Homo sapiens: one gene and its partners. The protein of the gene in region 4 purifies or fractionates together with the protein of the main gene of each other region. This does not show direct contact. Each region holds a gene or a part of one and is shown on either strand. Other genes may lie near its edges.

What was found.
Region 1: the proteins of ACSM5 (region 4) and GLS purify together in Homo sapiens (affinity purification with mass spectrometry; one large-scale study listed by BioGRID and IntAct). This does not show direct contact.
Region 2: the proteins of ACSM5 (region 4) and LARS2 purify together in Homo sapiens (affinity purification with mass spectrometry; 2 studies listed by BioGRID and IntAct, with this or other methods). This does not show direct contact.
Region 3: the proteins of ACSM5 (region 4) and TARS2 purify together in Homo sapiens (affinity purification with mass spectrometry; one large-scale study listed by BioGRID and IntAct). This does not show direct contact.
Region 5: the proteins of ACSM5 (region 4) and COQ8B purify together in Homo sapiens (affinity purification with mass spectrometry; one large-scale study listed by BioGRID and IntAct). This does not show direct contact.
Region 6: the proteins of ACSM5 (region 4) and TMLHE purify together in Homo sapiens (affinity purification with mass spectrometry; one large-scale study listed by BioGRID and IntAct). This does not show direct contact.
Region 7: the proteins of ACSM5 (region 4) and CRAT purify together in Homo sapiens (affinity purification with mass spectrometry; one large-scale study listed by BioGRID and IntAct). This does not show direct contact.

Annotation. Positions count from the first base shown.
Region 1 is NC_000002.12:190,960,821-190,963,436, forward strand, and holds part of GLS (glutaminase kidney isoform, mitochondrial isoform 1 precursor), read left to right. Parts: intron 1-2,009; coding exon 2,010-2,166; coding exon of another isoform or gene 2,167-2,206; 3' UTR 2,207-2,616. UniProt on the Homo sapiens protein: Catalyzes the first reaction in the primary pathway for the renal catabolism of glutamine. Plays a role in maintaining acid-base homeostasis. Regulates the levels of the neurotransmitter glutamate, the main excitatory neurotransmitter in the brain.
Region 2 is NC_000003.12:45,521,076-45,524,575, reverse strand, and holds part of LARS2 (leucine--tRNA ligase, mitochondrial), read right to left. Parts: intron 580-3,500; coding exon 468-579; intron 1-467.
Region 3 is NC_000001.11:150,497,419-150,500,918, reverse strand, and holds part of TARS2 (threonine--tRNA ligase, mitochondrial), read right to left. Parts: intron 3,390-3,500; coding exon 3,172-3,389; intron 2,418-3,171; coding exon 2,255-2,417; intron 2,023-2,254; coding exon 1,885-2,022; intron 1,704-1,884; coding exon 1,626-1,703; intron 1-1,625. UniProt on the Homo sapiens protein: Catalyzes the attachment of threonine to tRNA(Thr) in a two-step reaction: threonine is first activated by ATP to form Thr-AMP and then transferred to the acceptor end of tRNA(Thr). Also edits incorrectly charged tRNA(Thr) via its editing domain.
Region 4 is NC_000016.10:20,430,034-20,433,533, reverse strand, and holds part of ACSM5 (acyl-coenzyme A synthetase ACSM5, mitochondrial), read right to left. Parts: intron 2,542-3,500; coding exon 2,461-2,541; intron 2,315-2,460; coding exon 2,213-2,314; intron 1-2,212. UniProt on the Homo sapiens protein: Catalyzes the activation of fatty acids by CoA to produce an acyl-CoA, the first step in fatty acid metabolism.
Region 5 is NC_000019.10:40,710,387-40,713,886, forward strand, and holds part of COQ8B (atypical kinase COQ8B, mitochondrial), read right to left. Parts: intron 1-3,500.
Region 6 is NC_000023.11:155,515,453-155,518,952, reverse strand, and holds part of TMLHE (trimethyllysine dioxygenase, mitochondrial isoform 1 precursor), read left to right. Parts: intron 1-3,500. UniProt on the Homo sapiens protein: Converts trimethyllysine (TML) into hydroxytrimethyllysine (HTML).
Region 7 is NC_000009.12:129,100,794-129,104,293, forward strand, and holds part of CRAT (carnitine O-acetyltransferase), read right to left. Parts: coding exon 3,395-3,500; intron 2,274-3,394; coding exon 2,220-2,273; intron 1,773-2,219; coding exon 1,607-1,772; intron 1,265-1,606; coding exon 1,090-1,264; intron 1-1,089. UniProt on the Homo sapiens protein: Catalyzes the reversible transfer of acyl groups from carnitine to coenzyme A (CoA) and regulates the acyl-CoA/CoA ratio. Also plays a crucial role in the transport of fatty acids for beta-oxidation.

The DNA of each region.
Region 1 (2,616 bases), on a different chromosome or scaffold from region 4:
AGTTGTAAAAAAGCACTATGATTAAAAACTCCTTTATTGGCAGTATTCTAAAACCTCATGTTAGGTTGACAGTCTTCTTCCCTTTCCCCAAATTTTAATACCCACCCCAGGTTTCTAAAGCAAAAAATTGAAGAGCATTTTCCTCCTGTGTTTATAATCCCAACTAAAACACTATGTAATACATGTTGGAAATATTACTGTGCTTTGTATATGTATTAATTTTTTTTGCCCTAAATTGGCCTCTAGGAATGTGAAAGTAGATGTACCCACCTGATAAGAAAAAGTGAGCTAAGTAACTAACTTGATAACTAGGCATTCAACAAGTCTTTTTCTCTATTTCATAGAATCAGTGTCACCTTAAATTATAATAGGTTTGCACAGAATTCGTGAATTCTTGAGATAGAGTCTTGCTCTGTTGCCCAGGCTGGAGTGCAGTGGCGTGATCTCGTTCACTGCAACCTCTGCCTCCCAGGTTCAGGCAATTCTCCTGCCTCAGCCACCTGAGTAGCTGGGATTACAGGTGTGTTCCACCACGCCCAGCTAATTTTTGTATTTTTAGTAGAGAGGGGTTTCGCCATGTTGGTCATTCTGGTCTTGAACTCCTGGCCTCAAGTGGTGCACCCACCTTGGCCTCCCAAAGTGATAGGATTACAGGCATCACTGTATCTGGCTGAAATTAGTGTATTCTTTAAAGTTCATATTTTTCATTAATTCACAGAAGAATTGTAAAAAAGGTAACACGCAGTTGACATTCCATTTTTCCAGAAAGACAGATAATTACATACTGTAGAGGATGACTCAAAAGTCTGTTTCAAGCCACTGACTTCCTAAACTAATGAAGGCCTATTCAAAGTCACTTAATTCAGCTGTTTTTTTTTTTTTTTTGATAAATACAAAGATACATGTAAAGTTTTACTTACCTGATTTTAAAAACAGGCTACCAAAATTTATCCAAATATATTAAAAAATGAGACTGTTTTAAAAACCTTTCGTTTCCATATTGTGACTCCACTAAGCGGGTAAAAAGTTCAGGACAGAGATGGAAAGGAAAGAAGGAAACAGGAAGAAGTGAAACTAGGAAGGTGGTGCCAGTGGCACATGGATGAAGAAAGAGAGATCATCAGCCATGGAGAATTTTGTAATGTAAGTAGAGAGAGAGATTGGGTAGGAAGACAGGCTTCACAGTTTGTAAAGTGTAAGGGAACTACCCATCGTACCCTGTCATTGACTAGGGCTGTGAGTTATGTAGTTCTGTCTCCTCTTGCAAAAGACTTACCACTTCTGGCAAGTGATTAACCACTTCTGGCAACTCTTCATTTCTTCTTATCCTTGAATATTCATCTACATCACTCTAAACAGCACAGCCCCAGAAGCATGGAAAGGGGAGTTATTAGTATGGAAAGGGGAGTTACTCTTCTGGTGTAGTGGTCCGATTGAGTCCATGGCTTCCCAGCCTTACCAGAGGTGATAAAAATGTCAATTCCTTTGGGGCCAATCTTGCTCCTCCAGTGTGTTTTAGCCCTAATGAGGTCATGGTTATTTCTAGACTTCTGAGACTTACTGTGGCTTTGAATTGACACAAACACTAATTTTCTGTCAAAGGCTAGAGTGATGGATGTTATATGCCTGAATTTTCTTTGAACATTTTATTTTAAAAGAGATACTTTGGGCTTTTCATGAAACTAAAATTCTGGAACCCTAGAGCAGTCTATTATATCTGTCACCACAAGGACTTTCCTTAAAAAGCTCCCTCCATAAGCACTTGGATGTGTAAACAAGATCCTTTCACAGATCTTTTTCTCTTCCTCTCCATATCCCAACTTGTCTTGGAGACTACTTTTTGAATTATAAATCCCTTTCTGCATTTCTATTATTAATTTTTATTTGTAAAATTGCTAAAATAGCTAAATTTGGCCATTTAACCTGCATTTAAAATCTAGGAATGTGGGGTGATCATCTTTGTACATAAATTACCTAATGACCCTGTCCATGCTGTGCTACGTGTTTAGGTGGAATAACACTCCCATGGATGAAGCACTGCACTTTGGACACCATGATGTATTTAAAATTCTCCAAGAATACCAAGTCCAGTACACACCTCAAGGAGATTCTGACAACGGGAAGGAAAATCAAACCGTCCATAAGAATCTTGATGGATTGTTGTAATGGTCTCAAATCCCAAGATTTAAATCACTTACCTATTTAATTGTGGAAAATGATTATGAAGAACATGTGTATTTCTATCTGGTAGTGATGTATATTTTACATTTGTCATTTCAGTGTTACTGGAGTTTTCTTCATTGTGCACACAGGACAAATCTGATCTCTTTGGGAAAAAATAGAAATAAAACAATCTCCCTCCATAATGTGAGCAATATTACCTCGTGCATTGTATAATTTGATGTAAAAGAAATAGTTACCAATGCTAGCTTGTGTGGTCTTCCATGATTTATTTGTGTTTTGTGAATTTTCAATTTATGGTGATGATCTGCTGATATGCATTTATAAAGTAAGCTCTGTTGTACAGTCTGTCCAAATGGGTCAAGGTTGCCTTTAGAAGCAAATAGTGTGATTTTCAAGACTTCAAATACAAATTTAGTTTAAGTGTTTGAACAA
Region 2 (3,500 bases), on a different chromosome or scaffold from region 4:
AGGGTTCTAGGGGCTGAAATTCAAGCAGGCAGTCAGGCCTGCTTTGATGCCTAGATTAGGAATAATTGGTGAAGAGTGCTGAATTACAGTGTAAGTTTAGACCTATAACTTAATTTCCACCTGTACAGTGGTATTAAACATGAGTTTTTATCTTAAAAAGACCACGCAGGTCATAATATGTGGATACTGGGGGGCTGAGTCACGAGAAGGGATTAAGATGGTAACATCAACACCCACATTAGTCTGGGCACATTATTCAAAGCAGGGAAGTGTCTTTCCTTTTGGTAGGGGTGACCATGTGGATGAAGTACTACCATTCAGAGTACAGGACAGAGAGGTTGCTGAGTATAGATGCCAAATGTTGGACCCTATATCTGAGGACATCTGAGTCCCGAATGATGTTCAAAAAGAGGCTTCGACAAATTCTAGTTAGTAGTAACTGGTCAAAAAAGGACTCTGCCACGTACCTGCCCAGATCTCTGAGGTTACATGAGGGGCCAGTGGAGCAGCCATTACCATCAGGGCACACAAAGCATCCTCAAACTCGGGGCTGTGGAGAATGACGCTCTGAGAGGCTTGCTAAGGAAGAGGAAAAAAAAGTAAGAAGACTGAGGTGTAAAAATAAGCACGGGTAAGAAAGACCATTAATGTATCTGAAGTCCAGAGACACAAGCTGGTAGGAAGAAACCCCCTTTGCCATCCATTTCTGCTTGGGACAATGAACTTCCCCTACTTAATGATAGCACTGAGATAAACTACAGCAAGCCAGGTGTGGTAGCTGACACTTATACTCCCACTACTTTGGGAGGCCAAGAATTTGAGACCAGCCTGGGCACTATAGTGAGACCTCATCTCTATGAAAAATTAAAAAATAAAAAAAAATTAGCCAGGCACAGTTGCACACACCTATAGTCCCAGTTACTTAGGAGGCTGAAGTGGGAGGATCACTTAAGACCAGGAGGTCAAGGCTGCAGTGAGCTATGACTGCACCACTGCACTGAAGCTTGGGCAACAGTGAGACCCTATCTTTAAAAAAAAAAAAAAGCTCCAGCAGCAGCAACAACAAATACATGATGTTAACTTATTTAGTCCTCACCACTCTTTGAGGGTGGTATTCTTACCCCATTGGACAGATGAAGCAGCTAAGGATCAGCAAGGGAGGGCAATCTGCCCCCAGGCACACTGTAGCCAAACTCTTACCCACTCTGCTAGGTTTCCTCTGTGCTGCAGGTCCACAGAGAAATGCACTGAGACCTGCTCAAAGGTGTTAAACTGTGAAACACCTAGGGCAGGGGGGCCTCTATACCCTACTTAGGGACCCCTATTCTCTGAAATACCTTTGGTCAATTCCGGCAAACATAGTTGTGTTTAGCTCTGTGTGTTATTATTAAGGACTTCCCAAATTCCGGAATGGAAAGACAGAAATTCATTACAGTTTCATTTCAGTGTCTTGCTTTATTTTTTCTGATTAAAAAACTAACACACACTCAGCACAGAATATACAGGAAATGAAAAACTACTCATAATTATACAACCTAGAAAAAAAGGTATATTTTATCCTTGTCTCCAAAAATGCAAAAATGTGTATATAAATGCTTATTACACATGTAACATTTTCAGGATTGGTATTCTTGCCATATGAACACTTCCTTTTTTTTAATTTTAAAAATTAATTTTTTTTTTAAATAGAGATGGGGTATCTCACTATATTGCTCAGGCTGGTCTCGAAATCCTGGGCTCAAGCCATCTGCCTGCCCTGGCCTCCCAAAATGCTAGGATTACATGTGTGAACCACTGCACCCAGCTCATATGAACACTTTTGTATCTTTTTTTTTTGAGACAGAGTCTCTCTCTGTTGCCCAGGCTGGAGTGCAGTGGTGTGATCTCAGCTCACTGCAACCTCTGCCTACAGGTTTAAGCAATCCTCCTGCCTCAGCCTCCTGAGTGCCTGGGACTACAGGTGCACAGGTGTGCACCACCACACCCTGGCTGATTTTTTGTATTTTTAGTAGAGACAGGGTTTCACCATGTTGAGCAGGTTGGTGTTGAACTCCTGACCTCAAGCGATCTATCTGCCTTGACCTCCCGCAGTGCTGGGATTACAGGCGTGAGCCACTGTGCCTGGCCTTGTGTCATGTGTTTTTACTTAACATTATATCATAAACAGTTTCTGATATTAAGTATTCTTCAAGACATGAGGTTAATGGTGGTGGCACATTCCTTTCTTATTGATATGACATAAGTCATTTCACAATTCCCCCATCAGAGGACACTGGGGTTCCGAGTCTCTGTGATTATAAATTATCTGCAGTGAACACTCCTGGATCAGAGGATATAACACAATCAACCTGATAGCCGAAGTGCTTCCTGGCAAGGTTACACCAACCACACCTATCACTGGCGTGTAAAAGTCTATTCTGCCATCTTTGCAATAGCATGGGGAATAATTATGCCTTTATTTTTATTTTTTTGAGAGAGAGTCTCGCTTTGTCACCCAGGCTAGAGTACAGTGGCACCAAACAGCTCACTGCAACCTCAAATTCCTGGGCTCAAGGGATCCTCCCGCCTCAGCCTCCTGAGTAGCTAGAACTACAGGTGCATGCCACCACACTTGGCTAATTTTTAAATTTTTTACAGATGAAGTCTTGTTATGTTGCCCAGGCTGGTCTCAAACTCCTGAGCTCAATCGATCCTGCTGCCTCGGCCTCCCAAAGTGCTGGAATTACAGGCATGAGCCACTGTGCCTGGCCCTGAATAGTTACGTTAAAGTATTCTCAGCAAATTTGACAGGTATTTAAAAAAAAACAAAAACAAAAACAAAAGCATCTTGTTTTAAATTTGCCTTTCATGATAATTAGAGAGGCAGACTTTTTTTTCTCCACAAATGTATTGGCTATTTCTATAACATTTTCTATGAGTTATTATCTTTTCATATGCTTTGACCATTTTTGGTTAGGTATTTTCATATTAATATGTAAGAGTGCTTTACAAGGATATTAACCTTCTGTCTGACATGTTATAAATTTTTTTAACATACTGAAAATGTCAAGTTTTATGTAGTCAAATTTGAAATTTCTTCCATTGTTCTTTTTTATCTTTATTTTACTTTTTAAAAATTACCCTTTTAATTTTATTTTTAGAGACAGAGTCTCCTGCTCTGTTGCCCAGGATGGGTTCAAGCGATCCTCTCGCCTCAGCTTCCCGAGTAGCTACAGCTACAGCTGTATGCCACCATGCCAGGCTAATTATTTTATTTTTTTACTTTGTTTTTGAGGCGGAGTCTTGCTTTGTCGCCCAGGCTGAAGTGCAGTGGCGTGATCTTGGCTCACTGCATGCTCCGCCACCTGGGTTCACACCATTCTCCTGCCTCAGCCTCCTGAGTAGCTGGGACTACTGGTGCCTGCCACCACGCCTGGCTAATTTTTTGTATTTTTTAGTAGAGATGGGGTTTCACTGTGTTAGCCAGGATGGTCTTGATCTCCTGACCTCGTGATCCGCCT
Region 3 (3,500 bases), on a different chromosome or scaffold from region 4:
CTCCAGGAACTTCCCTTTACAACAACTTCTCCCTCCAAATAGACTTCCTCTCATCATAGCATTTATTTTATTTTTCATTTTATTATTATTTTTCTGAGATGGAGCCTCACTCTGTCGCCCAGGCTGGAGTGCAGTGGTGCGACCTCGGCTCACTGCAACCTCCGCCTCCTGGGTTTACAGGTGCCTGTCACCACGCTGGGCTAATTTTTGTATTTTTAGTAGAGACAGGGTCTCAAACCCCTGACCTCAGGTGATCCACCTGCCTCAGCCTCCCAAAGTGCTGGGATTATAGGCGTGAGCCACCGCCCCCAGCCTGTTTTATTTTTACTTTTTGGGACGGAGTCTTGCTCTGTTGCCCAGGCTAGGGTGCAGTGGTGTGATCTTGGCTCACTGCAACTTCCCAGGTTCAGCGATTCTCCTGCCTCAGGCTACTGAGTAGTTGGGACTACAGGTGTGTCCTAACACCTCACCCGGCCAATTTTTATATTTTTAGTAGAGATGGGGTTTCGCCACGTTGGCCAGGCTGGTCTCGAACTCCTGACCTCAAGTGATCCACCCACGTCGGCCTCCCAAAGTGCTGGGATTACAGGCGTGAGCCACCACACAGGCCTCATTTATTCATCTTCTAACTCCACCCTCAGGCCCTACTTTACTGAAAATGGTCCTTTGAAATCCAGCAGCCTTTTTACTAAATCCAGTGGACACTTTTCAGTCCTTTTTTCCCCTTGGCTTCTTTTTTTTTGAGACAGGGTCTCACTCTATCACCCAGGCTGGAGTGCAGTGGGGCGCAATCTCGGCTCACTGCAGCCTCTACCTCCTGGGACCAGGTGATCCTCCCATCTCAGCCTGCTGGGTAGCTGGGACCACAGGCACAAGCTACTGCACCCGGCTAATTTTTTTTTTTTTTTTTGGTAGACACAGGGTCTCCCTGTGTTGCCCAGATTGGTCTGCCATGTGTTTTCATCCTTATCCCCAGCCTCTGCCTACACTGTTCCCTCCTGAAACACATCTTTACTTGGCCAACACTCACCTTTCAGATTGGAAAGTGATTCCTGCAGGACACCTTTTGTAACCTCCCCGAGTAATGCTAACCCCAGCTAACGTGCTCTCTTGGTACCTACACAGCACAGATCTCGCAGCACTGATATGGCCTATTTACCTTCAGCAGCCCTCACTAGATTGCAGATGCCAAGAGGGCAGAAAGTATATTGTTTTTCTTTATATCCTACGTAAGTTTAAAAATATTTCTTTGTGGCCGGGTGCGGTGGCTCACGCCTGTAATCCCAGCACTTTGGGAGGCCAAGTGGGGTGGATTGCCTGAGGTCAGGAGTTCGAGACCAGTCTGGCCAACATGGCGAAACCCCATCTCTATTAAAAATACAAAAAAATTAGCCGGGTGTGGTGGCGTACACCTGTAATCCCAGCTACTCGGGAGGCTGAGGCAGGGGAATTGCTTGAACCAGGGAGCTGGAGGTTGCAGTGAGCTGAGATCACACCACTGCATTTTAGCCTGGGTGACAGAGTGAGACTGTCTCAAAAAAAAAAATTCTTTGTATCTATTAAATATTTACTAAAACAAAGCAAAAAATAAATAAATACAACACTAACCAGGGTCCCAAGCTTACCTTAGGTCCATAGAAGGCACCATCTCCAGAGTTGAGGTCCCAGGGTTCTCCAAATTCCTTCAGGGCCTGTTTAAGGACCTTTGAAGGAATGAGACAAGAGTGGAATACATCATCTTAGACTTCAAAAGCAACACATCCGGTCAGTCCCCAACAAATGACCCACTCACCAGATGCCTCTGAGAACCTTGATTACTGTATTCTCCACTCCTTCCCACCAGAGAGTGGTTTATCTGCCTCTATTTCTCTACCTCCTACTCACCTGTTCGGCCTGGTCCCAAAGGCAAGGGTCCCCCAGGAAGCCAGATGGCCGGGTGGACAGTGCCAGGCGGAAGGAGAAGCCAAGAACGGCATAGACGGAACGGAGGAAATCAAGACAGCTTTGGATCTCTGCTTCCAGCTAGGGGCAGGAAATAAGGGTCAGTGAGCTGTGAGCCCGCTAGAGATCAGGGATGCTGGCAGTTTGAGGAAAACAAAGGGCAAAAACAGAGAGGAAGCGGAAGCAAGCTGGGGGTAGAATGTAGCTGAATTATAGTACATACAGGGGGCAAATAAAGATCAGGGGTTTGCAGGTTCATAGGGAGAAAGAAAGGTGGTTTAGAAAAGCTTTGGTGGAGCCAGGGAAAGGCCACCTGATCTGTTGTACAGAAGATGTGAGCGTCATCCTGCTGGAAGCACCGCAGTCGGGTCAGTCCCCCCAGACCACCAGAGGCTTCGGCCCGGTGTAGAGCCCCAAAGTCAGCTAGTCGCAGGGGCAGTTCCCGCCAGGATCTGGGCCGGTGGGCGAACATCAGGCTGAGGTTGGGGTGCAGAGGGGTCAGGGCCATAGGGAGGACTAGCCCCCGAAGACTGCTCCTCCACCCAATCTGCTTGCCTACTTTCTCTGCACCATCTGCTATAACCCTCTCCAGCCTCAGCACATCCTCCCACTGAGTCCTGTCAATCCCACTCATCACAGTCTGAGCCCTGAGGTTCAAAAGTGGATTTCTCAGTAACACAATAACAGACATCGTTTACCATTTCCCTGTTCTGTGATGGTCACTGAGCTGAAGGAGGAGCCTTAGATAGCAACTTTAAGGAGACTGAGACCTAAAGAGGTAAAATGAGTTTCCCAAATTTACATGGTTAGCTAGGGGGAAGACTGTAGGCTCAAATCGGTGTCCCAATACTCTTTCCAAGGTGCTTTCTTTTTTTTTTTTTTTTTGAGATGGAGTCTCGCTGTGTCACCCAGGCTGGAGTGCAGTGGCGCGATCTCGGCTCACTGCAAGCTCCACCTCCTGGGTTCACGCCATTAGCCTGCCTCAGCCTCCTGAGTAGCTGGGACTACAGGCGCCCGCCACCGTGCCCGGCTAATTTTTTGTATTTTTAGTAGAGACAGGGTTTCTCCATGTTGGTCAGGCTGGTCTCAAACTCCCGACCTCAGGTGATCCGCCCGCCTCGGCCTCCCAAAGTGTTGGGATTACAGGCGTGAGCCACCGTGCCCGGCCCCAAGGTGCTTTCTATTATTTAATATTTAGCAACCTGATTGTAACCCTAGCTCCCAGCTTACCAGTGTGCAGGGCAGTTCATAGGCTTGAGGGCGAGTGTATCTGTGATATGCCTGGTAGAATCGTCACTCTGGGAGCTGGGAGGCCTGTCAGAGCCTGGGGGCTGCACGGCAAACATGTCTTCCTGATAATGCTCCCAGTGCCCTGACTGTTCCCAGAGCTTCGTAGAAAACAGTGTGGGAGTTTTCACCTCGGAGAAACCACGATGGGCATACTCAGCCTGGAGAGGAGGGTACAGACATGGAAGGTCAGAGTAACTGGAAGGAAAGCAGGTAGGGTGTCAGCTGTGTGATCTTCCTGGGCCCTCAGGCCATGCTGATTGCAACCACAA
Region 4 (3,500 bases):
CCTTTACATAACTAATTTCTGATATTAGAAATTTAGATAGTCCCTCCACCTTTTTTATCTGTTATAAACAGCCAGCACTATAACAAATATTTGTGCATTTGATAATTTGTTTCCCTAGGAAAATAAGCACATTCCTTATATGGGATATACAGTTGACACGGGCATATTCATTTAACTGACATGTGCAATTTCAGCTAAATGGGAATGACCAACGTGAATTTGAAATGTTTATGTTTATTGTAGGGGGAGAATGAGCTTAGCTTATCAAAACTCACAGAACAATTTTGGTCTGAGATCCTCTATAATAATTTTCACATGTTTCCTGATTCTCACGAAGACATTTAATATTTTTCTCTTAATTAAGAATGAGCTGGGCCGGGCACTGTGGCTGATGCCTGTAATCCCAGCACTTTGGGAGTTGCCCGAGGCGGGCAGATCACTTGAGGCCAGAAATTCCAGACCAGTCTGGCCAAGGTGGCAAAACCCTGTCTCTACTAAAAATACCAAAATTACCCCGGTGAAGTGGTGTGCGCCTGTAGTCCCAGTTACTTGGGAGACTGGAGCGCGAGAGTTGCTTGAGCCCAGGAGGTGGAAGTGCAGTGAGCCAAGATCGCACCACTGTACTCCAGCCTGGGCAACAGAGTGAGAAGACACTGTCACAAAAAAAAAAAAAAAAAAAAAAAAAAGAATGATCTGGAAAGAAAACTAACTGTTGGTACAGGTGACGGAAAGAAACAGTCAAAAAAACTAGATTGTTGTCTAGCAAATAACTTTTCAAATTACTTTAGTACACTCAGTGGAACAATCTCACAACCAGAAAGAAAGTGTACAAGTGCAGTAAGTACCAGAGTCCTGCTCCACACTAAGTACCAGAGTCCTGCTCCACACCGAGCGGCACGAAGTCGACAATAAATAATGAATGAATGCATTTTTTCAGTGGGGTCAAAGATTTACTATTGCTTCCAAGACTGATTAGCAGAAAATACATTAAATGTTAACATGATCTCAGCTTGGCATGATTACTATGTTGTGGGATTTTGTAAGTTTCTGTGATTTTAAACAAAATAAAGTAGAAGATTATTTCTCTTGTAGTGACAGAAAAACCACTAAAATGCAACATTTTGAAAAGAAATGGACTGATTTATTTCTGCTCCTTCTAATTCTGTAGCTGATTGACAGCTTAGTAGACACATGAGATGGCATTTCTATTAAGCAGTGGCTCTCAGGCTTGACATTCGAATCGCCTGGGAAACTGATCCACACCAACAGAAATGTTGATTTTAATTAAGCTGAGGTGGGGCTCAAGCATCAGCAATAACTGAGGCTTGCCAGGTGTTTCTAATGCACAGCCAGGTCTGAGAGTTTTATAGAGAAAGCTGTGAAGAAAAGAAAGCCCGACATAAACACCACCCAAGATGAATACAAAAGAGAAGCAGTTACTGAATTATCCCAGAAACTTGGACTGAAATCCCAGGTTTGTGCCCTGCTAGCAAACCACAAAGAGAATCCTGAAGACAGCTCTGACACAATAGTGCAGTTTGACCTTTATGTATTTATTTATTTTATTATTATTATTATTTTTTTTTTTTGATACGGAGTCTCGTTCCCTCACCCAGGCTGGAGGGCAGTGGAATGATCCTGGCTCACGGCAACCTCCCTGGTTCAAGCAATTCTCCTGTCTCAGCCTCCCAAGTAGCTGGGAATAGAGGCGTGCGCCACCATGCCTGGCTGATTTTTGTATTTTTGGTAGAAACGGGGTTTCACTATGCTGACCAGGCTGGTGTTGAACTCCTGACCTCAGGTGATCCACCTGCCTCGGCCTCTGAAAGTGCTGAGATTACAGATGTGAGCCACTGCACCCGGCTGCAGTTTGACCTTCAGAAGCTCCTTTCCTTTACTGTACCTCGATTTTCACCTCATTAAAACAACAGTGCTGCCCTCATGTCATGTTTACGCTTTCAGACACACCCACATTTAAATCCCATGTCCTGCCTGTACTATTTGCATGATGCTGGATAAGTCACTTCCCCTTTGTAGTAGCTTCCTTATCAATAATAGTCTTCCTTATCAATAACAGAACTTTATTAATAATAGTAGCAACCTACCTCATGCAGTCATTGTAAGGATTAAACAAATAGATATTTACAAAGTGTGGTGCACAATGCTTAGCACACAGTCACTGTCATGAGAACGGCTGTTCCCCGTCTCTTACCAAATAGCAATTGAAGAAACAGAAGGGCCGAGTGGGTCTGATACGGACGGCAACATTCCCCTCTTCTCCAGGAGGCAGGACGTTGCCCTCATCATCCACAATCTGGTAAGGAAATCATCACAGAGGTGCATACGTGAGTGTCTACACCCTGGGCCTCTCCCAGCAGCCCAGCAGCCCGTGCCAACCAGGCCTGTGTGTCTTTCTCCTCTCCATGCCAGGCCTTGCCAGAAGTTGGGGGAGGCTGCTACCTGCACATCGTAGGGTGGGGACGCCTTCCCCATGGATCCAGACTTGATTTTCATGCCTTTTGGATTGGCACAGATGACAACCTGGGGAGAACGCAGTACAGATAAAGAAGAGCCTTTCCACTTAGCTTCTTTCCTGGGCCATGCCTTTCTCTCACCCTGCCTGATAACTCTTTCTCTCATCCTCTTTTTTCTCCTCCCTCACTTTCTTCTTTCTTTCCCTTCTCCTCTCTCCATTTCTCTCCATTCTTCCTCCCTTCTTTCTTTTCTTTTTTCTTCCTTGCTCACTCCTTCCTTTCCTCTTTCTTTCCTTTCTTTCCCCTTTCCTGTTTTCTTCCTTCCCTCCTTCATTTTCTTTCCTCCTTTTTTTCATTCTTTTCCCCGTTATTTCATTCTCCATTTTCCTCTCTCCTCCCTTCTTCTTTGTTCCCTATTTCCTTCCTTCCATTCATCTTTTTCCCTTCCTTTCCTCCTTCTTTTCCTTTCTCTTTCCTTTATTTCCTCCCTCCCTTCCTTCTTCATTTTCTTCCTATTTTCTTCCCTCTTTCTTGCCTGTCTTTCTTCTTTTCTTTCCATAGTTAACAAACAATTATGGGGCACTCCAGTGGGCACTCAAACATAAAGAACTTAACCCATCTCTAAGCCAAAAGACTCAGTTGATCCCCAGATCTCTTCCTAGATGACTATAGAGGACGCTGCTTAGAATCTTGGACTCTGAACAGTGGCAGATGTAGACTGTCTTGGTGGAGACAAACAATGCCTTCAGCAGTGAGGGCTGGTTTGCTGGTCATGGTATAATTGTAAAAGTACTTTAAATTACCTTTTTTTAATTTATAAGTAGTGTGTGTGTGTGTGTGTGTGTGTGTGTGTGTGTGTATTTCAATAGCTTTTTGGGTTCGAGCGTTTTTTTGTAACATGGATGAATTCTATAGTGGTGAATCCTGAGATTTTAGTGCATCTGTAAGCTGAGTAGTGTACATTATACCCAATACGTAGTTTTTTTACCTTCACGCCCCTCCTCTCACCTTCTTCCTTCTGAGTCT
Region 5 (3,500 bases), on a different chromosome or scaffold from region 4:
GGCACGCGCCCACCACGCCTGGCTAAATTTTTTTTGTATTTTTAGTAGAGACGGGGTTTCACCGTGTTGGCCAGGCTGGTCTCGAACTCCTGACCTCAGGTGATCCTCCCGCCTCGGCCTCCCAAAGTGCTGGGATTATAGGCATGAGACACCGCACTCAGTCTTGTCTCCCAATTCTTTGTATCTCTGTTTCCAAATCAGTCTCTGACTCTGTTCCTGCATGGGGCTCCCTTTAAGGTGCAGCTTCCTCTTTCTTTAACCCTTTCTCCATGTCTCTGTCTCCCTCCCAGCAGTTCTCAGCCCTGGCTGCACATTCCAGTTACCAGAGGAGCTCCGGTAAATATAATGCCCAGACTCCACTCCCCAAATTCTGATTAAATTGGCCTGAGACATGGGAATTTGTGTTTTGTTAAAAAGCACCTCAGATAATTCTAATGTGCGATCAAGGTTAAGAAGGCCCCTCGGCCGGGCACAGTGGCTCATGCCTATGATCCCAGCACTTTGGGAGGCCGAGGTGGGCAGATCATCTGAAGTCAGGAGGTCGAGACCAGCCTGGCCAACGTGGAGAAACCCTGTCTCTACTAAAAATACAAAATCAGCCGGGCGTGGTGGTGCATGCCTGTAATCCCAGCTACTCAAGAGGCTGAGGCAGGAGAATCGCTTGAACCTGGGAGACAGAGGTTGCGGTGAGCCGAGATCACACCATTGCACTCCAGCCTGGGAAACAAGAGAGAAACTCCGTCTCAAAAAAAAAAAAAAAAAGAAGGCCCCGAAACAATTGTCCTAGGTCCCTCTGTCTTCTGGTGACTCTTCTTTCTCTGTCCACACCTCCTCTTCTTTATGCTTATCTCTTTTTCTTTTTAGAGACAGGGTCTCACTCTGTCGCCCAGGCTGGAGTGCAATGGCACCATCATAACTCACTGCAGCCTCAAATTCCTGAGCTCAAGTGATCCTCTTCCCTCAGCCTCCTGAGTAGCTGAGACCACACGTGCATACCACCACGCTCACCTAATTTTTTATTGAGACAGGGTCTCACTATGTTGCCCAGGCTGGTCTGGAACTCCAGAACTCACGTGATCCTCCTGCCTCGGCCTCCCAAAGTGCTGGGATTACAGGTGTGGGCTACCAGGCTTGACCTCTCCCTTTCTAAGCCAGTTATTTCTGCATCTCTTGCCTTCTCCCCATTTGTCCTATCTATCTAGATCTCTTTCTCTCTTTTCCTCCCTTTGATGTTATCTCTCCATCTCTGATTTCCTCTGCTACCTCTCCTCTTGTCCCTAAAGACGTCTCGGGTCTCTCTCCTTCTTTTGTTGTCACCATCTCTGTCAATTACCATATCTGGCATTTTCTGTGTCCTTTCTACATGTCAGGGGCTGTTCCCAGTGCCTTCTGTGCACTTACTAATTTTTGTCCTTACATGAGGTCTCCACCTTCATAAAATGTATTTTACAGAAAACTTCCATTTTACAGAAAAGGAAATTGAGGTTCAGAGAAGTGAAGTAATTTGCCCAGAGTCACGTCACAAAGCGAGGACACAGCAGAGTCATCCCTTAATCCCTGGGCAGCCTGGTGCCAAAGCTCTAACCAGTGCCTTTGACTGCCTCTGCAGACTGTGAATCTATCTATGTATATATATATAGATTTTTTTTTTTTGAGACAGAGTTTCACTCTTGCTGCCCAGGCTGGAGTGCAATGGTGCGATCTTGGTTCACTGCAATCTCTACCTCCTGGGTACAAGCAAGTGAATCTATATTTTTAAAACTTGAACCAGGCGGGGCATGGTAGCTCACGCCTATAATCCCAGCACTTTGGGAGGCTGAGGCAGGTGGATCACGAGGTGAGGAGTTCGAGATCAGCTTGACCAACATGGTGAAACCCCATCTCTACTAAAAATACAGAAATTAGCGGTCAGGCACAGTGGCTCACGTCTGTAATCCTGGCACTTTAGGAGGCCAAGGCAGGCGGATCATGAGGTCAGGAGATCGAGACCATCCTGGCCAACATGGTGAAACCCTGTCTCCCTAAGAAAAAAAAAAAAAAAAACAACAAAAAATAGTTGGACGTGGTGGCGTGCATCTGTAACCCCCGCTACTCAGGAGGCTGAGGCAGGAGAATTGCTTGAACCTGGGAGGTGGAGGTTGCAGTGAGCTGAGATCATGCCACTGCACTCCAGTCTGGGTGACAGAGCAAGACTCCATCTCAAAAACAAAAACAAAAACAAAACTTGAACCATGATCAGCAATAAGAAGACATTTACGTTATAACCAGTGCAGACCAAGGTATATGTTTCACGAAACAAGACTTTCCCTTGCTCTACAGGTGCATGCATATTTTCTGTCCTATTCTTCTTTTTAAATGCTGGTTGCAACCCACTAAATTATTTCATGTGACTTGCACGACATCCGGCTGTGTAACCCAAAGTCAAGTGACCTCCCCTTTGTTAGCCTCAATGTCCTCATGTACGGAATAGAACACTCATTGATTCAGTGCAGCATGTGTGTATATGGGACACTGCACATTACAGGTTCTCAGTAAATGTTATTATGGCCAGGAGCAGTGGCTCATGCCTAGAACCCCAGCACTTCGGGAGGCCGAGGCAGGAGGATCGCTTGAGACCAACTTGAGCAACATAGGGAGACCCTATCTCTACAAAAAAATATTTTTTAAATTACCCAGGCCAGGCACAGTGGCTTCCCGGGCACCGTGGCTCACATCTGTAAATCCCAACACTTTGGGAGGCCGAAGTGGGTGGATCACTTGAGGTCAGGAGTTCAAGACCAGCCTGGCCAACATGGTGAAATTCTGTCTCTACTAAAAGTACAAAAATTAGCCAGGCGGCCAGGTGTGGTGGCTCACGCCTGTAATCCCAGCACTTGGGAAGGCTGAGGCAGGCGGATCACAAAGCGAGGACATAGCAGAGTCATCCCTTGAACCCTGGGCAGCCTGGTGCCAAAGCTCTACCACTGCCTGACAAACATGGTGAAACCCCGTCTCTACTAAAAATACAAAAATTAGCCGGGTGTGGTGGATGCATGCCTGTAATCCCAGCTACTTGGGAGTGTGAGGCAGGAGAATCGGCTTGAACCCGGGAGGTGGAGGTTGCAGTGAGCCAAGATGGCGCCACTGCACTCCAGCCTGGGTGACAGAGGGATACTCCGTCTCAAAAAAAAAAAAAAAAAAATAGCCAGGCATAGTGGCAGGCACCTGTAATCCCAGCTACTCAGGAGGCTGTGGCAGGAGAATTGCTTGAATGTAGGAGGCAGAGGTTGCAATGAGCCAAGACGGTGCCACTGCACTCCAGCCTGGGCAACAGAGCGAGACTCTGTCTCAAAGGAAAAAAAAAAAAAAATTACCCGGGCGGATGGTGCACAACTGTGGTCCCAGCTACTCAGGAGGCTGAGGCGAGAGAATTGCTTGAGCCCAGAAGTTTGAGGCTGCAGTGATCGCGCCACTGCACTCCAGCCTGGGTGACAAAGTGAGACTCTGTCTCAAAAAAAAAA
Region 6 (3,500 bases), on a different chromosome or scaffold from region 4:
AACAAAATTGATAGACCGCTAGCAAGACTAATAAAGAAAAAAAGAGAGAAGAATCAAATAGACACAATAAAAAATGATAAAGGGGATATCACCACCAATCCCACAGAAATACAAACTACCATCAGAGAATACTACAAACACCTCTACGCAAATAAACTAGAAAATCTAGAAGAAATGGATACATTCCTCGACACATACACTCTCCCAAGACTAAACCAGGAAGAAGTTGAATCTCTGAATAGACCAATAACAGGCTCTGAAATTGTGGCAATAATCAATAGCTTACCAACCGAAAAGAGTCCAGGACCAGATGGATTCACAGCAGAATTCTACCAGAGGTACAAGGAGGAACTGGTACCATTCCTTCTGAAACTATTCCAATCAATAGAAAAAGAGGGAGTCCTCCCTAACTCATTTTATGAAGCCAGCATCATCCTGATACCAAAGCCGGGCAGAGACACAACCAAAAAAGAGAATTTTAGACCAATATCCTTGATGAACATTGATGCAAAAATCCTCAATAAAATACTGGCAAACCGAATCCAGCAGCACATCAAAAAGCTTTTCCACCATGAGCAAGTGGGCTTCATCCCTGGGATGCAAGGCTGGTTCAATATACACAAATCAATAAATGTAATCCAGCATATAAACAGAGCCAAAGACAAAAACCACATGATTATCTCAATAGATGCAGAAAAAGCCTTTGACAAAATTCAACAACCCTTCATGCTAAAAACTCTCAATAAATTAGGTATTGATGGGACGTATTTCAAAATAATAAGAGCTATCTATGACAAACCCACAGCCAATATCATACTGAATGGGCAAAAACTGGAAGCATTCCCTTTGAAAACTGGCACAAGACAGGGATGCCCTCTCTCACCGCTCCTATTCAACATAGTGTTGGAAGTTCTGGCCAGGGCAATCAGGCAGGAGAAGGAAATAAAGGGTATTCAATTAGGAAAAGAGGAAGTCAAATTGTCCCTGTTTGCAGACGACATGATTGTTTATCTAGAAAACCCCATCGTCTCAGCCCAAAATCTCCTTAAGCTGATAAGCAACTTCAGCAAAGTCTCAGGATACAAAATCAATGTACAAAAATCACAAGCATTCTTATACACCAACAACAGACAAACAGAGAGCCAAATCATGGGTGAACTCCCATTCACAATTGCTTCAAAGAGAATAAAATACCTAGGAATCCAACTTACAAGGGATGTGAAGGACCTCTTCAAGGAGAACTACAAACCACCGCTCAAGGAAATAAAAGAGGACACAAACAAATGGAAGAACATTCCATGCTCATGGGTAGGAAGAATCAATATCGTGAAAATGGCCATACTGCCCAAGGTAATTTACAGATTCAATGCCATCCCCATCAAGCTACCAATGACTTTCTTCACAGAATTGGAAAAAACTACTTTAAAGTTCATATGGAACCAAAAAAGAGCCCGCATTGCCAAGTCAATCCTAAGCCAAAAGAACAAAGCTGGAGGCATCACACTACCTGACTTCAAACTATACTACAAGGCTACAGTAACCAAAACAGCATGGTACTGGTACCAAAACAGAGATATAGATCAATGGAACAGAACAGAGCCCTCAGAAATAATGCCGCATATCTACAACTATCTGATCTTTGACAAACCTGAGAAAAACAAGCAATGGGGAAAGGATTCCCTATTTAATAAATGGTGCTGGGAAAACTGGCTAGCCATATGTAGAAAGCTGAAACTGGATCCCTTCCTTACACCTTATACAAAAATCAATTCAAGATGGATTAAAGATTTAAATGTTAGACCTAAAACCATAAAAACCCTAGAAGAAAACCTAGGCATTACCATTCAGGACATAGGCATGGGCAAGGACTTCATGTCCAAAACACCAAAAGCAATGGCAACCAAAGCCAAAATTGACAAATGGGATCTAATTCAACTAAAGAGCTTCTGCACAGCAAAAGAAACTACCATCAGAGTGAACAGGCAACCTACAACATGGGAGAAAATTTTCGCAACCTACTCATCTGACAAAGGGCTAATATCCAGAATCTACAATGAACTCCAACAAATTTACAAGAAAAAAACAAACAACCCCATCAAAAAGTGGGCAAAGGACATGAACAGACACTTCTCAAAAGAAGACATTTATGCAGCCAAAAAACACATGAAGAAATGCTCATCATCACTGGCCATCAGAGAAATGCAAATCAAAACCACTATGAGATATCATCTCACACCAGTTAGAATGGCAATCATTAAAAAGTCAGGAAACAACAGGTGCTGGAGAGGATGTGGAGAAATAGGAACACTTTTACACTGTTGGTGGGACTGTAAACTAGTTCAACCATTGTGGAAGTCAGTGTGGCGATTCCTCAGGGATCTAGAACTAGAAATACCATTTGACCCAGCCATCCCATTACTGGGTATATACCCAAAGGGCTATAAATCATGCTGCTATAAAGACACATGCACACGTATGTTTATTGCGGCACTATTCACAATAGCAAAGACTTGGAACCAACCCAAATGTCCAACAATGATAGACTGGATTAAGAAAATGTGGCACATATACACCATGGAATACTATGCAGCCATAAAAAATGATGAGTTCATATCCTTTGTAGGGACATGGATGAAATTGGAAACCATCATTCTCAGTAAACTATCGCAAGAACAAAAAACCAAACACCGCATATTCTCACTCATAGGTGGGAATTGAACAATGAGATCACATGGACACAGGAAGGGGAATATCACACTCTGGGGACTGTGGTGGGGTCGGGGGAGGGGGGAGGGATAGCATTGGGAGATATACCTAATGCTAGATGACACATTAGTGGGTGCAGCGCACCAGCATGGCACATGTATACATAGGTAACTAACCTGCACAATGTGCACATGTACCCTAAAACTTAGAGTATAATAAAAAAAAAAAAAAAAGAAGAAAAGTACAATTGTTCCAATAGAAAAATGTGAGAAAGGACTGAACAGACAAATCATTAAAGCAGGAGTCAGCAAACATTTTCTATAAAGAGCCAGATGGTAAATATTTTCAAACTTTGTGGGCTATATGAGTGAATGGAGCTATAGACAATATGTAACAACATGGACAGCATGTGTTCTGAAACAGGCATTACAAAACCAAGCACCAGATTTGACTCATCAACCATAGTTTGGTAGTCCCTGCATTAAAGAAACATAGATGTCTAACAAATATAGAAAGTATTCTTATTAGCCTTAGTAAGCAAATAAGTTAAAATTATTACAAGATAGCAGTTCCACTTTAGTTACCAAATTAGAAAAAAATATATTTTAAAAATAAGAATACTCCATTTTGATGGACACATATGTACTGTTGGAGGGAATGAAGATAAGTAGACTTTCTAAAAAGTAATTTGATTATGTATATCAGAACTCTTAAAAGTTTATATCTTTGAAATTTCTAAATACAAAGATACGAACTTTTAAGAAATGTAATATACATTCTATTTCTAAATTATA
Region 7 (3,500 bases), on a different chromosome or scaffold from region 4:
TGTACCTCTCTGGGATGAGGAGACCCCCCACCTCGCCGGCCCTCCAGGGCATTCACCAAGTGCAGGGTGTGGGTTCAGAGCTTCGAACTCAACAGGACCCTGCAGGCCCACAGCACTCCTCGAGGCAGGGCCCAACACCTGGCCCACTTTAGACACAGGAAACCGAAGCCCAGGGGTCACATGGGAGCTGGTGTGGCAGCCGGGGAACCCACACAGGTGGTCTGACTTTGGGGTCAATGCCCCTGAGCAAGACATGCTTTGGAGGACTGCTGGTACTTGGGGGCACAGGGGGTGTGGAGGCGGGTGGGCTTCTCAGCCAGAGGACTTGGACTCTAATCCTAACTTGCTATTTAGCTGAGAGAAACTACCCTAACCATGAGGTGTCCTCAACTAGGACATGGGGCCCACATTGCCTGCTCCACGTTGAGAGGATGCAGCGGGAAACATGTCTGCCCATGGCTGTGCGGGGCCCAGCATGCCGGGGGAATGTTGGGAAAAGGACTTGTGGGGTGCCTGTATAAACTGGCCATAAAAATAGGGGACAATAAGTTGTGGAAAGCCAGAAGAGGCCACGGAGGAGGAAAGCCTACTAATTGCCATCATGTTCCCATGCTCAGAGCGAGACCCGCTCTCCTATCTGTAAACACTGTGTTCAAGGAGAAAGACACTCCTTTGAAACACTGGGAAGTGGACAGATGTGCAGGCTCCTAGTTAAGCCCGCTCCCACCAGCTACTCTCCGATAAGTTAAAGACACGCTGTTTGAGCACAAAGGAGATTCATTTAAACTGCTATTGCTATAGATTATGCCTCCTATGAGGCACTGCCTCCCTTTCACTGTTTCGCCCTGAACATGTGCTTCTTAGAGCTAAGTGACTGCACTCAATAGTGTGGAGACCAGAACTCTGCGCCTTTTGCAGCCTCCATTTTGCAACTGGCCCCTGGCTCCCACCTTCATGAACTCTTAACCTGTCTCTTCTCATTCCTTTGTTGCCAGCAGACTTCGGGTACCCTACAGGTGGAGTTGAGGCTGGTCCCCAACAGGGGAAGAGGCCTGGGTGTGCAGCCCCAGCACGGCCCCCAAGAGGCACCTTTGATGAGGGTGTTGTATGCCTTGGCCCAGGAGTTGCGGTGGTTGGAGGTGAGGATGCCCACAGGCTCCTTGTTGGTCTGTAGGGATGAGTTCCAGATCTTCTCCAGCTGCACAAAGATCTGATCCGCAGTGAGGGGTGTCCCGTCACTGTGGTACACATCCAGCTCAAAAAACTGTTGGGGCACAGGCAGGTAAGAGGAGGGAGCTGAGTGGGGACCTCAGGCTGAGAGCAGCCACCTCCCCACACCTGCCTCCTCCTGGCCTTGGCCTTGGAGGGGATGGAGTCAGGCCAAGGGTGAGAGGGGGAGGAGGTCCTTGGATCACCCTTCTGGGCTGGGCAGGCCCACGGCCCCTCCTGGCCTCCCTGGGCCCCCAATGGAGAAGCCAGGGGCGCCCATTCCTGGGGCACGTGGGCACGTGTGCTGGGGAACCCCAGTGGGGAAGCCGACTGCGGCCGTCCGGCTGTACTCCTGCAGCAGGGCCGGGGCTTGTAGGTGTGGGTGGGGGCCACCCACCTGGTAGTTGTGTACCACGGTGATGTGCGTGGGAGGCTTCTTGGTCTTGCTGAAGTTGCTGACTGTGTCCTGCTTGGGGCCCGGCACTCGGCAGGAGGACAAGATCTGATAGTACTGGTTCATGCACAGTGGCTTCCCCCCCAGGTACTCCACGGGCAGGGTCTCGCTATGGGGTAGAGGGGCAGTGAGGCCACCACTGGGCAAGTGAATGGGGAGGAGGGCAGGGTAGACAGGGACCTGCTAGGTACTGCTGGGGGCTCACACAGTGTCCCTGCTCCCACTCCCAGATGAGCAGGACACCTCAGGGCTGTGCTGTGGGCAGGGGGCTCGCTTTCTGCCCCAGATGGGCCCTGTTCAGAAGTCATCTAGAAACTCCCTCCTTTCCCCTCTCTGGGCTTCAGTTTGTCACAGGGGAGATGAAGCAGCGAATAAAACTCTGGGGTCCTCTTTAGTTGGGATGGGACAGGGTCACCCACCAAGAGGAGATTCCAGCAGCTGGAGCAGGGCCCAGGGCCCAAGCTGGCATGCCGGGCCAGGGCTGGGGTCAGAGGTGGCTGTGGTAATTAAGCAGGCCTGGGCAGGTGTGGGGCTGGGCAGGGGTGGGGATGCTCACTTGTCAATCATGACCTTGAAATCCAACACACCCTCAATGAGTTTGGCAGCAAATCTGGAAAGATTGATTAGAGATTAGAAGCTGCGTGGACACCCTGAGGGAGGCCCCGGGCTAGGGACACCTGCTTGGGGAGCGGGAGGTCTAGTCTTCCAGCCTCTCTCACCGCTTCCAGAAAGCCTGGGAGCGCAAGGGAGGGGCCTGCGAGTCCCAGCTTGCCAGCCTGTGTGTGCTTCTTCATAACCTCTAGAGGGAGCATGGTCGGGAGGGCTCGGGGAAGTGCTGGTGGCCAAGGGCCTAGTAGGACTTGGGTGCTGGCCCCCTGCAGCTGGAGTGTGGCTTGGTTAGGGGTCAGTGGGCTGGGTCTACCCACAAAGGGCCTGAGCTCCTGAACCTCAGCCTAGAATCTGGAGGGGGTGTCATCTGCTCTGAAGCATCGGTTCTGGAGGCCCCGGGCCCCTGGGGTGGTGTGATGGGAGAGCAGTGGCTCCGGTGTTCCCTCCACTAGGTCCCTTCCCCACTCTGGGCCTCTGTGTCCCCCAGGCCGCCTTCCTCCCAGGGCTGTCTGGCCCATGGCAACCACCCTCAATGCTTGGGGCCGCCCCTGGATCCCACCATGGGGACCAGTGGCTGGAGTTCCTGGGCCTGAACCCCGGCCCTTCCCAGGGTACCCTGGTCCCTTTAAGAGAAGCAGGTGGTGGCAGCCAGTGGCTGGTCCTTGGGCAGGAGATCCTTGTCACTGGTATTTTTATCTCTGGTAGGACTGGAATAGGGGCTGGGGCAGGTGACCTGGCTGAATGTGGAAAAGAGGACTGTGTACAGAGGTCACCCCTGTGGCTAGCTGAGAAGAGTGGAAAGGAGAGGTGAAGTGCTAAAACTGGGGTCGGGGAGAAGCCTCAGGTATGGAGGAGGATGGGGCCTCTGCGAAGATGTGGTGGTTAACAGCCATGAGGCTTTAGAGCTGGAGAGACCCTGCTTCCTGAATGGGGTCTTGGGCAGCTCCCTTCCCTGCTCCGAGCCTCAATTTCCCCATTTGTAAAATAGGGAGGATGCTCCCTACTTCATAAGGCTGCTTGTGGGGCAGAAAGATAAACAGGGTCGGGGCCCCTCCAAGCGGCTGGGCGAAGTGAACTCGAGGGGCCCGGCTGCCTCCTGGCCCCCAAACCCCAGCCACTCACCGGAGCTGACCCTGCAGGTCCACGAAGTCCTGCTTGGGTAGCATCACGCCTGGGCTCGAGTAGATGACCACAGGCTGGCGGTACTGGAGGTAGGCGGTCTTGAGCC